Linked DNA regions of Homo sapiens. The gene in region 3 interacts genetically with the main gene of each other region. Each region holds a gene or a part of one and is shown on either strand. Other genes may lie near its edges. The genes, in order: PLA2G4C, LCK and CRYBB1.

Region 1 (3,648 bases), on a different chromosome or scaffold from region 3:
CAGAGCCAAACCATATCGATAGAGTAAGTTACCTGTGGAGATATCTGTGGCCTTTTATCTGTGGCTTAGGAACAAAAGGAAAGACAGTTTCTTGCATGACTCAGCTTAATTAAGCTTTCAGCTTAATTTTTTTTTTTTTTTTTTTTTTTTTAGAGGCAAGGTCTTGCTCTGTCGCCCAGCCTGGAGTGGGGTGGTACCATCATAGCTCACTGCAGCCTCAAACTCCTGGGCTCCGGCAATCCTCCCACCTCAGCCTCCTGAGTAGCTGAGACTATAGGCTTGTGCTACCACACCCAGCTAATTTTTAAAATTATTTGTAGAGACTTGGTCTCACTATGTTGCCCAGGCAGATCTTGAACTCCTGGGCTCAAGCGATCCTCCTGTCTTGGCTTCCCAAAGTGCTGGGATTACAGACATGAGCCACAGTGCCCAGCCACAGCTTAAGTTTTTCCTTTTGGCATAGTGAATTGGGGTCCTGAGATTTCATTTTCCTTTCACAGAGATATGGTTTGGCTCTGTGTCCCCACCCAAATCTCATCTCAAATTGTAATTCCCATGTGTTGGGGTAGGGGCCTGGTGAGAGGTGATTGATGGGAGCGTACTTCCCCCTTGCTGTTCTTGTGATAGTGACGGAGTTCTCATGAAATCCGGTTGTTTGAAAGTGTGTAGCACTTCCCGCTTTGCTCTCTCTCTCTCCTTCTCTGCCATGGTAAAGATGTGCTTGCTCCCCCTTCACCTTCCACCATGATTGTAAGTTTCCTGAGGCCTCCCACCCATGCTTCCTGTTAAGCCTTCGGAACTGTGAGTCAATTAAACCTCTTTTCTTCATCAATTACCCAGTCTCAGGTAGTTCTTTACAGCAGTGTGAAAACGGACCAATATACACGGAGACAAGCGTGGAACAAATTCTCCCTCACAGATCCCAGAAGGAACCAGCGCTGCTGATACCATGAATTCACACTTCCAGCCCCCAGCACCATGAGACCATCAATTTCTGTGAAGCCACCCAGCTAGTGGTATTTTGTTACAGCAGCCCTAGCAAACGAACACAGCCTGCTTCACTCTTCAGAAAACCATTCACTCCTGACCCTGTTCATGGTCTGTCCCCTGCTGAGACGCAAGCTCAAGTAGGGGAGACACTGCCTATCTTTTTTCACCCATGCAACCCTCCTGCCTGTTGCAGAGAAAGTTCTCCAACAGATACTTACTGAACGAGCATAGGCATCAGAGCGACTATGGTCTCCCACCTACCCGGCCACGTTCATCAACTCTCTAAGGATCTTCTTCTTGTTTTCCCTGACATTCTTCTTGGCTAATGCCAAGAGTAGCACCACCACATCTAGAGTGTAGGTGTCAGCAAGCTTGAATGTGTCGTATGTGTCACTCCATGCCTCAATATCACCTGAAGCATAACCAAACCAACAAAGAAAAGGCATCATGAGTTTGGACAATTAATTCTGCAGATTTTTGTCTATTTACATCAGGGCTTGGCAAACTACAGTTGTGGACCAAATCCAGTCGGCCCACTACTTTGGCTTTATAAATAAAGTTTTATTGACACATGAGGTTATGGATTTATCTATATTTTTATGATCCATGCCCCTTCCGGTCCTTTTTTCTTTTTTTTTTTTTTTTTTTTTTGAGACAGAGGCTCGCTCTTGTCTCCCAGGCTGGAGTCCAATGGCACAATCTTGGGTGACTGTAACCTCCACCTCCTAGATTCAAGCGATTCTCCTGCCTCAGCCTCCCAAGTAGCTAGGATTACAGGCGTGCATCACCACGCTTGGCTAATTTTTTGTATTTTTTAATAGAGACGGGGTTTCACCCTGTTGGCCAAGCTGGCCTTAAACTCCTGATCTCAGGTGATCTGCCCCGGCTTGGCGTCCCAAAGTGCTGGGATTACAGGCGTGAGCCACCGCGCCTGGCCCCCTGCTTCCTGTCTTCTTTACTACTCTAGCCTGCCTCTCCTGGAACCATGGCTGATGCAGCATAGGTAACCAATAAATGTTCGTTAAATGAAGGAAGAAAACAGACACAATTTATCCCTAATGGGAGTCTCATCGCAGGAGACACGATTGACAAGCTAAAAGGAGCCCACTGTGGGAAGTGGCACAATCAGGCCCCGGAGGACCACCCATCCTGGATGCTAGGCCTTCCAAGCAGCTGCTCACCTGAGACTGGATGAGGAATGTGGGATGCCCAGGTGGAAGGGGTTGGATATTCAGGTAGGACAAGAAGGCTGCAGAGAGAGGCAGCAACATGCATAAACATGCAAGACCGAGAGAGGCAGCCTGGCATCCTCCAGGCCCAAGGGTGGACAGGATGACTCACTCAACCATCAGATGTTGGAGCGTAACAAGATGTCCCCAGGGCACAGCACAGCTCCATTCGGCCTGGCCTGGTGGTGATATGGTTTGGCTGTGTCCCCACCCAAATCTCATCTTGAATTGTAGTTCCCATAATCCCCAAGTGTCGTGGGAGGTAATTGAAGCATGGAAGTGGTTACCCTCATGCTGTTCTCGTGACAGTGAGTTGAGTTCTCACGAGACCTGATGGTATGTATTTATTTATTTATTTGAGAAGGAGTCTTGCTCTGTCCCCAGGCTGGAGTGCAGGAGCGCGATCTCAGCTCACTGCAACCTCCGCCTCCCAGGTTCAAGCGATTCTCCTGCCTCAGCCTCCTGAGTAGCTGGGATTACAGGCACGCACCACCAAGCCCAGCAATTTATTTTTTTTTGTTGTTGTATTTTTAGTAGAGATGGGGTTTCACTGTGTTAGCCAGGATGGTCTCAATCTCCTGACCTTGTGATCCGCCCGCCTCAGCCTCCCAAAGTGCTGGGATTACAGGCATGAGCCACCGCGCCCGGCTGATCTGATGATTTTATAAGCATCTGGCAATTGCCCTGCTGGCACTCACTTCTCCTTCCTGCCGCCTTGTGAAGAAGGTGACTTGCTTGGCCTTCGCTTTCCACCATGACTGTAAGTTTCCTGAGGCCTCTCAATCCATGCTGAACTGTGAGTCAATTAAACCTTCTTCCTTTGTAAATTACCCAGTCTCAGGTATGTTTTTATTAGCAGTGTGAGCATGGACTAATACAGGTGGCTTCTCACCTGCTCCTCCCCTGCACCTACCTCCACAGGCATCTATGTTGAACAGGGGAAAATGCATCACCACTGGTCCAGTTTCTCCTTTCAGGATGTAGCAGCTGGCGGGGGCCTTGGACCACAAATCCAGCTCAGCCTCTTCTACTTGGGGAAAGGGGATCTTGTGGCGGCGGCAGTAGTCAGTGGTAGCCCGGATGGTCTGAGAAGGAGGCAATAAGAAATGGTTGCAAGACCTCTCCAGAAGACCCCTCCAGAAGACCCCTGGGGCCTGGAGACCCAATGGGACCTCAGCTAACAGCCCAGACACACAACAGAGCAAGGGTCAGCTTGGACAGGGACAACATCTTCTGTAAGGGAAAGAGTAAGCCTCTGCCATCACCCGCACTCCCCAGCCCACCTAGAGACAACATTCGCGAGGTTAGAGAGTAACCTTTGGGGCTGGGGGCTGCGGGACTCAGAGGGCAAGGAAAATGGTGCCTAGATGAGGCTTTGAATCCCAGCTCTGCCACAGAAAGATGTTGGAGACCTCATCTCTACAGTATA
Region 2 (3,648 bases), on a different chromosome or scaffold from region 3:
TTGGGTCATTGCACTGCAGTCTGGGCAAGAGAGTGACACTTTATCTCAAAAATAAATCAACAAATAATAAAATTGGAGATTAGGCTTGCTGGTTTCTAAGACCTTTGCAGATGGGAGACTCTATGCATTAACACTGCATGTTCCAGTTGACATTTATTAACTAATTTTGGGTGCTGGTGGCTTTCAGACAAATAAACTACAGCTTCTGCTCTTGATGAACCCCCACTCTCATCAAAGGTATGGGAGAGGCAGTGGGACCCTGGGGCTGACATGTAAATCAGTAATCATGGAACTCTGTGTCTAAGTTGATTATTGAGGTCTGAATAGAATGTTGCAGGAGACTGGGGTGAGAGGGAAGCAAAGAGCATTGGGAAGTCTTCAGACTAGGTGATATTTAGGCCAGGTGCCTGTAATCCGAGCACTTTGGGAGGCTGAGGCAGGAGAATTGCTTGAGGCCAGGAGTTCGAGACCAGCCTGGCCAACATGGTGAAACCCTGTCTCTACTAAAAATACAAAAGTTAGCCAAGCGTGATGGTGCATGCCTGTAATCCCAACTACTCAGGAGGCCGAGGCAGGAGAATTGCTTGAACCTGGGAGGTAGAGGTTGCAGGAAAAAAAAAAAAGGTAATATTTCAGCTGAGCCTTGAAGGTTGAGTTAGAATTCAGCAGTTGGACAAAAGAGAGCATGCCGACTGGGTTCGGTGGTGCATGCCTATAATCCTAGCATTTGGGGAGGCCAAGGCAGGAGGATTGCTTGAGCCCAGGAGTTCGAGATCAGACTGGGCAACATAGTGAGACCTCATCTCTACAAAAAAATAATCAGCTGGGCATGATGGTGTGCACCTTTAGTCTCAGCTACTGGGGAGGTTGAGGTGGGAAGATTGCTTGAGCCCAGGAGGTCTAAGGGGATTGCGCCACTGCACTTCAGCCTGGGAGAGGAAGGGAGACCCTGTCTCAAGAGAGAGAGAGAAAGAGAGAGAGAGAGAGAAAGAGAGAGAGAGAGAGAAAGAGAGAGAGAGAGAGAGAGAGAGAGCGAGAGAGCGCACGCATTTCAAAGCAGGGAGAACCACAAGTACAAAGGCATTAAGTAAGAAAATAGCATGGGGTGTTTGGGAAAGGCAAGAATAGTTCAGAACACAGGCTGTGTGTGTGGGGGTGTGTGGGGGTGCCTGTGTGTGGGTGTTTGTGTGTGTGTGAGTGTGGGTGTGTGGGGGTATCTATGGAGGGGATGCCTGTGTGTGTGTGTAAGGTGAGTGTGTGGATGTGTGCATGGGTGTGGGTGAGTGTGTGGAGGTGCCTGTGTGTGTGTATGAATGTGTGTTGGGGAGGGGAGAATGTGTGTGTGTGGGGTGAGTGCGTGTGTGTGGGGGTGAATGCGTGTGTGTGTGTATGTGGGTGTGACTGTGTGGGTGTGTGGACGAGTGTGTGTGTTCCTGGGTGTGGGAGCCTGTGTGTGTAGGGGGAGTATGTATAGGGTGTGTGCATGAATGTGTGTGTGGGTACGTGTGTGAGAGTGGGTGCCTGTGTGTGGGGGGTGAGTGTGTGTGTGGGGGGGCACTTGTGGAGGGTGAGTGTATGTGTTTACTGAGTGTGAGTGTGGGTGCCTGTGTGTGGGAGGGTGAGTCTGTGTGTGAGTGTGTGGGGGAGTACCTGTGAGGGGTGAGTGTGTGTGTTTATGTGAAAGTGTGTGTGTGTGGATGCCTCTGTGGAGGTGGGATAGGGGGTGCCTCTGTGTGTGTGTGTGAGAGTGTGTGTGTGTAGGGTGTGTATATGTATAGGGTGTGTGTGAGTGTGTGTGTGTGAGAGAGTGTGTGTGTGGCAGAATAGACTGCGGAGGTGGATTTCATCTTGATATGAAAGGTCTGGAATGCATGGTACATTAAACTTTGAGGACAGCGCTTTCCAAGCACTCTGAGGAGCAGCCCTAGAGAAGGAGGAGCTGCAGGGACTCCGGGGGCTTCAAAGTGAGGGCCCCACTCTGCTTCAGGCAAAACAGGCACACATTTATCACTTTATCTATGGAGTTCTGCTTGATTTCATCAGACAAAAAATTTCCACTGCTAAAACAGGCAAATAAACAAAAAAAAAGTTATGGCCAACAGAGTCACTGGAGGGTTTTCTGCTGGGGAGAAGCAAGCCCGTGTTTGAAGGAACCCTGTGAGATGACTGTGGGCTGTGTGAGGGGAACAGCGGGGGCTTGATGGTGGACTTCGGGAGCAGAAGCCTCTTTCTCAGCCTCCTCAGCTAGACAGGGGAATTATAATAGGAGGTGTGGCGTGCACACCTCTCCAGTAGGGGAGGGTCTGATAAGTCAGGTCTCTCCCAGGCTTGGGAAAGTGTGTGTCATCTCTAGGAGGTGGTCCTCCCAACACAGGGTACTGGCAGAGGGAGAGGGAGGGGGCAGAGGCAGGAAGTGGGTAACTAGACTAACAAAGGTGCCTGTGGCGGTTTGCCCATCCCAGGTGGGAGGGTGGGGCTAGGGCTCAGGGGCCGTGTGTGAATTTACTTGTAGCCTGAGGGCTCAGAGGGAGCACCGGTTTGGAGCTGGGACCCCCTATTTTAGCTTTTCTGTGGCTGGTGAATGGGGATCCCAGGATCTCACAATCTCAGGTACTTTTGGAACTTTCCAGGGCAAGGCCCCATTATATCTGATGTTGGGGGAGCAGATCTTGGGGGAGCCCCTTCAGCCCCCTCTTCCATTCCCTCAGGGACCATGGGCTGTGGCTGCAGCTCACACCCGGAAGATGACTGGATGGAAAACATCGATGTGTGTGAGAACTGCCATTATCCCATAGTCCCACTGGATGGCAAGGGCACGGTAAGAGGCGAGACAGGGGCCTTGGTGAGGGAGTTGGGTAGAGAATGCAACCCAGGAGAAAGAAATGACCAGCACTACAGGCCCTTGAAAGAATAGAGTGGCCCTCTCCCCTGAAATACAGAAAGGAAAAGAGGCCCAGAGAGGGGAAGGGAATCTCCTAAGATCACACAGAAAGTAGTTGGTAAACTCAGGGATAACATCTAACCAGGCTGGAGAGGCTGAGAGCAGAGCAGGGGGGAAGGGGGCCAGGGTCTGACCCAATCTTCTGCTTTCTGACCCCACCCTCATCCCCCACTCCACAGCTGCTCATCCGAAATGGCTCTGAGGTGCGGGACCCACTGGTTACCTACGAAGGCTCCAATCCGCCGGCTTCCCCACTGCAAGGTGACCCCAGGCAGCAGGGCCTGAAAGACAAGGCCTGCGGATCCCTGGCTGTTGGCTTCCACCTCTCCCCCACCTACTTTCTCCCCGGTCTTGCCTTCCTTGTCCCCCACCCTGTAACTCCAGGCTTCCTGCCGATCCCAGCTCGGTTCTCCCTGATGCCCCTTGTCTTTACAGACAACCTGGTTATCGCTCTGCACAGCTATGAGCCCTCTCACGACGGAGATCTGGGCTTTGAGAAGGGGGAACAGCTCCGCATCCTGGAGCAGTGAGTCCCTCTCCACCTTGCTCTGGCGGAGTCCGTGAGGGAGCGGCGATCTCCGCGACCCGCAGCCCTCCTGCGGCCCTTGACCAGCTCGGGGTGGCCGCCCTTGGGACAAAATTCGAGGCTCAGTATTGCTGAGCCAGGGTTGGGGGAGGCTGGCTTAAGGGGTGGAGGGGTCTTTGAG
Region 3 (3,648 bases):
GCAGTGGCGCAATCTCGGCTCACTGCAAGCTCCGCTTCCCGGGTTCACGCCATTCTCCTGCCTCAGCCTCCCGAGTAGCTGGGACTACAGGCGCCCGCCACCACGCCCGGCTAATTTTTTGTATTTTTAGTAGAGACGGGGTTTCACCTTGTTAGCCAGGATGGTCTCGATCTCCTGACCTCGTGATCCACCCGCCTCGGCCTCCCAAAGTGCTGGGATTACAGGCGTGAGCCACCGCGCCCGGCCGGGCTAGAGTTTTTGCTATAGTAGAAGCAGCATTTCTCCAGAGCCCAGAACCATGGCTTACTGCCAGTGTGATCTTATGCTAATTGGATCACCTCTCCGAGCCTCAGTTTCCTCATCCGTAAAATGAGATTGAGAACAATTCCTCCCTCTTCAGTTTGATATGAGGATTGGACATAATGTATGTGCCAGGAGTACGAACGGCCGCAGGCACAGAGCAGATGCTGGAGAAATGGCAGCTACTGTTGTGTGGTCATTTTACTGTGGCAGAGAGTGTGCCCCTCCGCCGCCCAGTACTCACGGTCCCGCGGAGACAATGATGCTGCGCACACGGTCGAAGCCACGGTCTGCCAGATTTGAGCACTCCCCCGAGAATTCTGCTCGACGGCCCTGGAAGTTTTCCAGTTCGAAGACCACCAGCTGCAGGAGAGAAGCCCCCATGCCAAGGGCAGAGTGAGGGGGGAGTCAAAAATTCATTAAGTATCTACATAAATAAAAGCCAGCAGTGCAGGAGTCACATAAAAGTGTGATGAGCCACAGTTTGTGAAATGATCCTGTCCTCCCATCCCCCAATTCTTTACTGATTTTTGTTTTTTGTTTGTTTGTTTGTTTTTCTGAGTCTCACTCTGTCGCCCCAGCTGAAGTTCAGTGGCGCAATCATGGCTCACTGCAACCTCCGCCTCCCAGGCTCAAGCGATCCTCCCACCTCAGCCTCCGAGTAGTTGAGATTACAGGCACCCACCACCATGCCTGGCTATTTTTTGTAGAGACAGGATTTTGCCATGTTGCTCAGGCTGGTCTCGAATTCCTGAGCTCAAATGATTGGCCTGCCTTGGCTTCCCAAAGTGTTGGGATTACAGGCATGAGCCATTGCACCTGGCCTCATGCCCTAATTCTGAAGCTAAGATCTGCGCCATCATTAGGAACTTATGAACCTCCCTTTCAGGCCTTTCTTTGTGCTATTCCTCCTGCCTGGAATGCCTTCTCCACCACACATATCCAGCTTGGAGCTCCCACTGCCTAACTGAAGTTCCCTAATACGCATTCCAGCTCGTTATTCTGTTTTAGGCTCAGGTGCCACCTTCTCCAGGAAGCCTTCTCTGATTGCCCCTTCCTCCATCGGCCTTGGTTGAGCATCCCCCACTGTCCTCTCCCCATTAGCAGCACAACTAACCCACCACACAGTCACTGCTGTTTTGCTTTGGGGTCTCCCTCTCTCTCTGCACTCCCTCTCTCCCATTACCCAGCCCCTCCAAAGACCAAGGACTCCTCCAGGGCAGGGCCTGAGGTTGATCAATTTCTGTATCTCCAGCCCCAGCCCCAGTACCTGCCACAGAGCTGATGCTCAGGAGACACTTGCAAATCCAACCCTCCACAACATAGGGGAAAACTTGAGCTAATCTTCTCTCCTCACTAAGCCTCATGTTTGGTTCCTTGTCCACTTGCTGTTCCAAGTTGGGACAACGTTGCCATTCACATGGACCAAGGCACAATTTTCTGCCTTCTTTGAGCCTCAGTTTCCCCAGCTGTAAGAGGAGGGGAGGTTCATATAACCATGACCCAGCACTTCCACTTCTACCTTTGGTTGCCCAAGAGAAACTCCTGTATGTGTGCCCCGGGATGTTGCGGGAAGTCAGGGACCCCAAACGGAGGAACTGGCTGAAGCCATGGCAGAAGAACGTGGATTGTGAAGATTTCATGGACATTTATTAGTTCCCCAAATTAATACTTTTGTAATTTCTTATGCCTGTCTTTACTGCAATCTGTAAACATAAATTGTAAAGATTTCATGGACACTTATCACTTCCCCAATCAATACCCTTGTGCTTTCCTATGCCTGTCTTTACTTTAATCTCTTAATCCTGTCAGCTGAGGAGGATGTATGTCGCCTCAGGACCGTGTGATAATTGCATTAACTGCACAAATTGTACAGCATGTGTGTTTGAGCAATATGAAATGTGGGCACCTTAAAAAAGAACAGGATAACAGCAATTGTTCAGGGAATAAGAGAGATAACCTTAAACTCTGACCGCCAGTGAGCCGGGCAGAACAGAGCCATATTTCTCTTCTTTCAAAAGCAAATGGGAGAAATATCGCTGAATTCTTTTTCTCAGCATGGAACATCCCTGAGAAAGAGAATGCGCACCTGGGGTTAGGTCTCTAAACTGGCCCCCCTGGGCGTGGTCGTCTCTTATGGTCGACGCTGCAGAGATGAGATAGACTCCAGTCTCCCATAGCTCTCCCAGGCTTATTAGGAAGAGGAAATTCCTGCCTAATAAATTTTGGCCAGACCGGTTGATCTCAAAACCCTGTCTCCTGATAAGATGTTATCAATGACAATGGTGCCCAAAACTTCATTAGCAATTTTAATTTTGCCCCGGTCCTGTGATCCTGTGATCTCTCCCTGCCTCCACTTGCCCTGTGATATTCTATTACCTTGTAAAGTACTTGATGTCTGTGACCCACACCTATTCTCACACTCCCTCCCCTTTTGAAACTCCCTAATAAAAACTTGCTGGTTTTTGCAGCTTGTGGGGCATCACGGAACCTACTGACATGTGATGTCTCCCCCGGACGCCCAGCTTTACAATTTTTCTCTTTTGTACTCTGTCCCTTTATTTCTCAAGCTGGCCGACGCTTAGGAAAAATAGAAAAGAATCTATGTGAATATCGGGGCAGGTTCCCCGATACCAGGAGACAGGGATAAGAACGTCCAAGCCATGCTGTTCACGAGAGCAAAGCTAGCAACCACTGAAATCGTGCTTAGCAGGAAAGAGATGGTCACGCTCTGAAATATCAGGCAGCAGCCAGAATGAATGGCCGGCAGTCATGCGCAACAATATGGATGGATATTAGGGATCTCATAGTAAGTGAAAAGTACAAAGAAAAGCCCAGAATAATCACATTGCATATTTCAATAAATTAAAAACAAGTAAATCGGCCAGTTGCGGTGGCTCACACCTATAATTCCAGCACTTGGGGAGGCGGAGGCTAGGAGTTCGAGACCAGCCTGGATAATATGGCAAAACCCGTCTCATAATTCGGTCTCAAAATAAATGAATAAATAAAACAAGTAAATAAATATACATGTGTATGTGTGTATACATTTTTAAAGGAATAATGCATAAAATTGTATACAAAAGCAAGCAAGCAGATTACAGACACAGGTTGAGGATAGGACAGTATTTCCTGGAGTTGGGGAGGAAAATGATGGACTCAAGGGAGACACCTTAGAGTTAGGTAGAAAGTTTTTAACCAAGTCCTGGCTTTTATATGGGTGGTGGGTTTGTAGGTGCATATTGCATTATTAGAAATTAAATAAAACTAATGATTAAATAGGTACATAAATAAAAACCTGCCACGCACTGACCACATGAGAGCGTGTCATGAACTAGGGGTTGCAAA

The links.
Region 1: changes in CRYBB1 (region 3) and PLA2G4C together harm fitness more than expected from each alone (negative genetic interaction), as found in Homo sapiens cells (one large-scale study listed by BioGRID).
Region 2: changes in CRYBB1 (region 3) and LCK together harm fitness more than expected from each alone (negative genetic interaction), as found in Homo sapiens cells (one large-scale study listed by BioGRID).

The regions. Positions count from the first base shown.
Region 1 is NC_000019.10:48,051,746-48,055,393, forward strand, and holds part of PLA2G4C (cytosolic phospholipase A2 gamma isoform 1 precursor), read right to left. Parts: intron 3,305-3,648; coding exon 3,133-3,304; intron 1,403-3,132; coding exon 1,252-1,402; coding exon of another isoform or gene 1,248-1,251; exon of another isoform or gene 1,209-1,247; intron 1-1,208. UniProt on the Homo sapiens protein: Calcium-independent phospholipase, lysophospholipase and O-acyltransferase involved in phospholipid remodeling with implications in endoplasmic reticulum membrane homeostasis and lipid droplet biogenesis.
Region 2 is NC_000001.11:32,271,617-32,275,264, forward strand, and holds part of LCK (tyrosine-protein kinase Lck), read left to right. Parts: intron 1-2,504; exon of another isoform or gene 2,505-2,581; coding exon of another isoform or gene 2,582-2,713; coding exon 2,714-2,818; intron 2,819-3,120; coding exon 3,121-3,202; coding exon of another isoform or gene 3,203-3,376; coding exon 3,377-3,467; intron 3,468-3,648. UniProt on the Homo sapiens protein: Non-receptor tyrosine-protein kinase that plays an essential role in the selection and maturation of developing T-cells in the thymus and in the function of mature T-cells. Plays a key role in T-cell antigen receptor (TCR)-linked signal transduction pathways.
Region 3 is NC_000022.11:26,611,528-26,615,175, forward strand, and holds part of CRYBB1 (beta-crystallin B1), read right to left. Parts: intron 664-3,648; coding exon 545-663; intron 1-544. UniProt on the Homo sapiens protein: Crystallins are the dominant structural components of the vertebrate eye lens.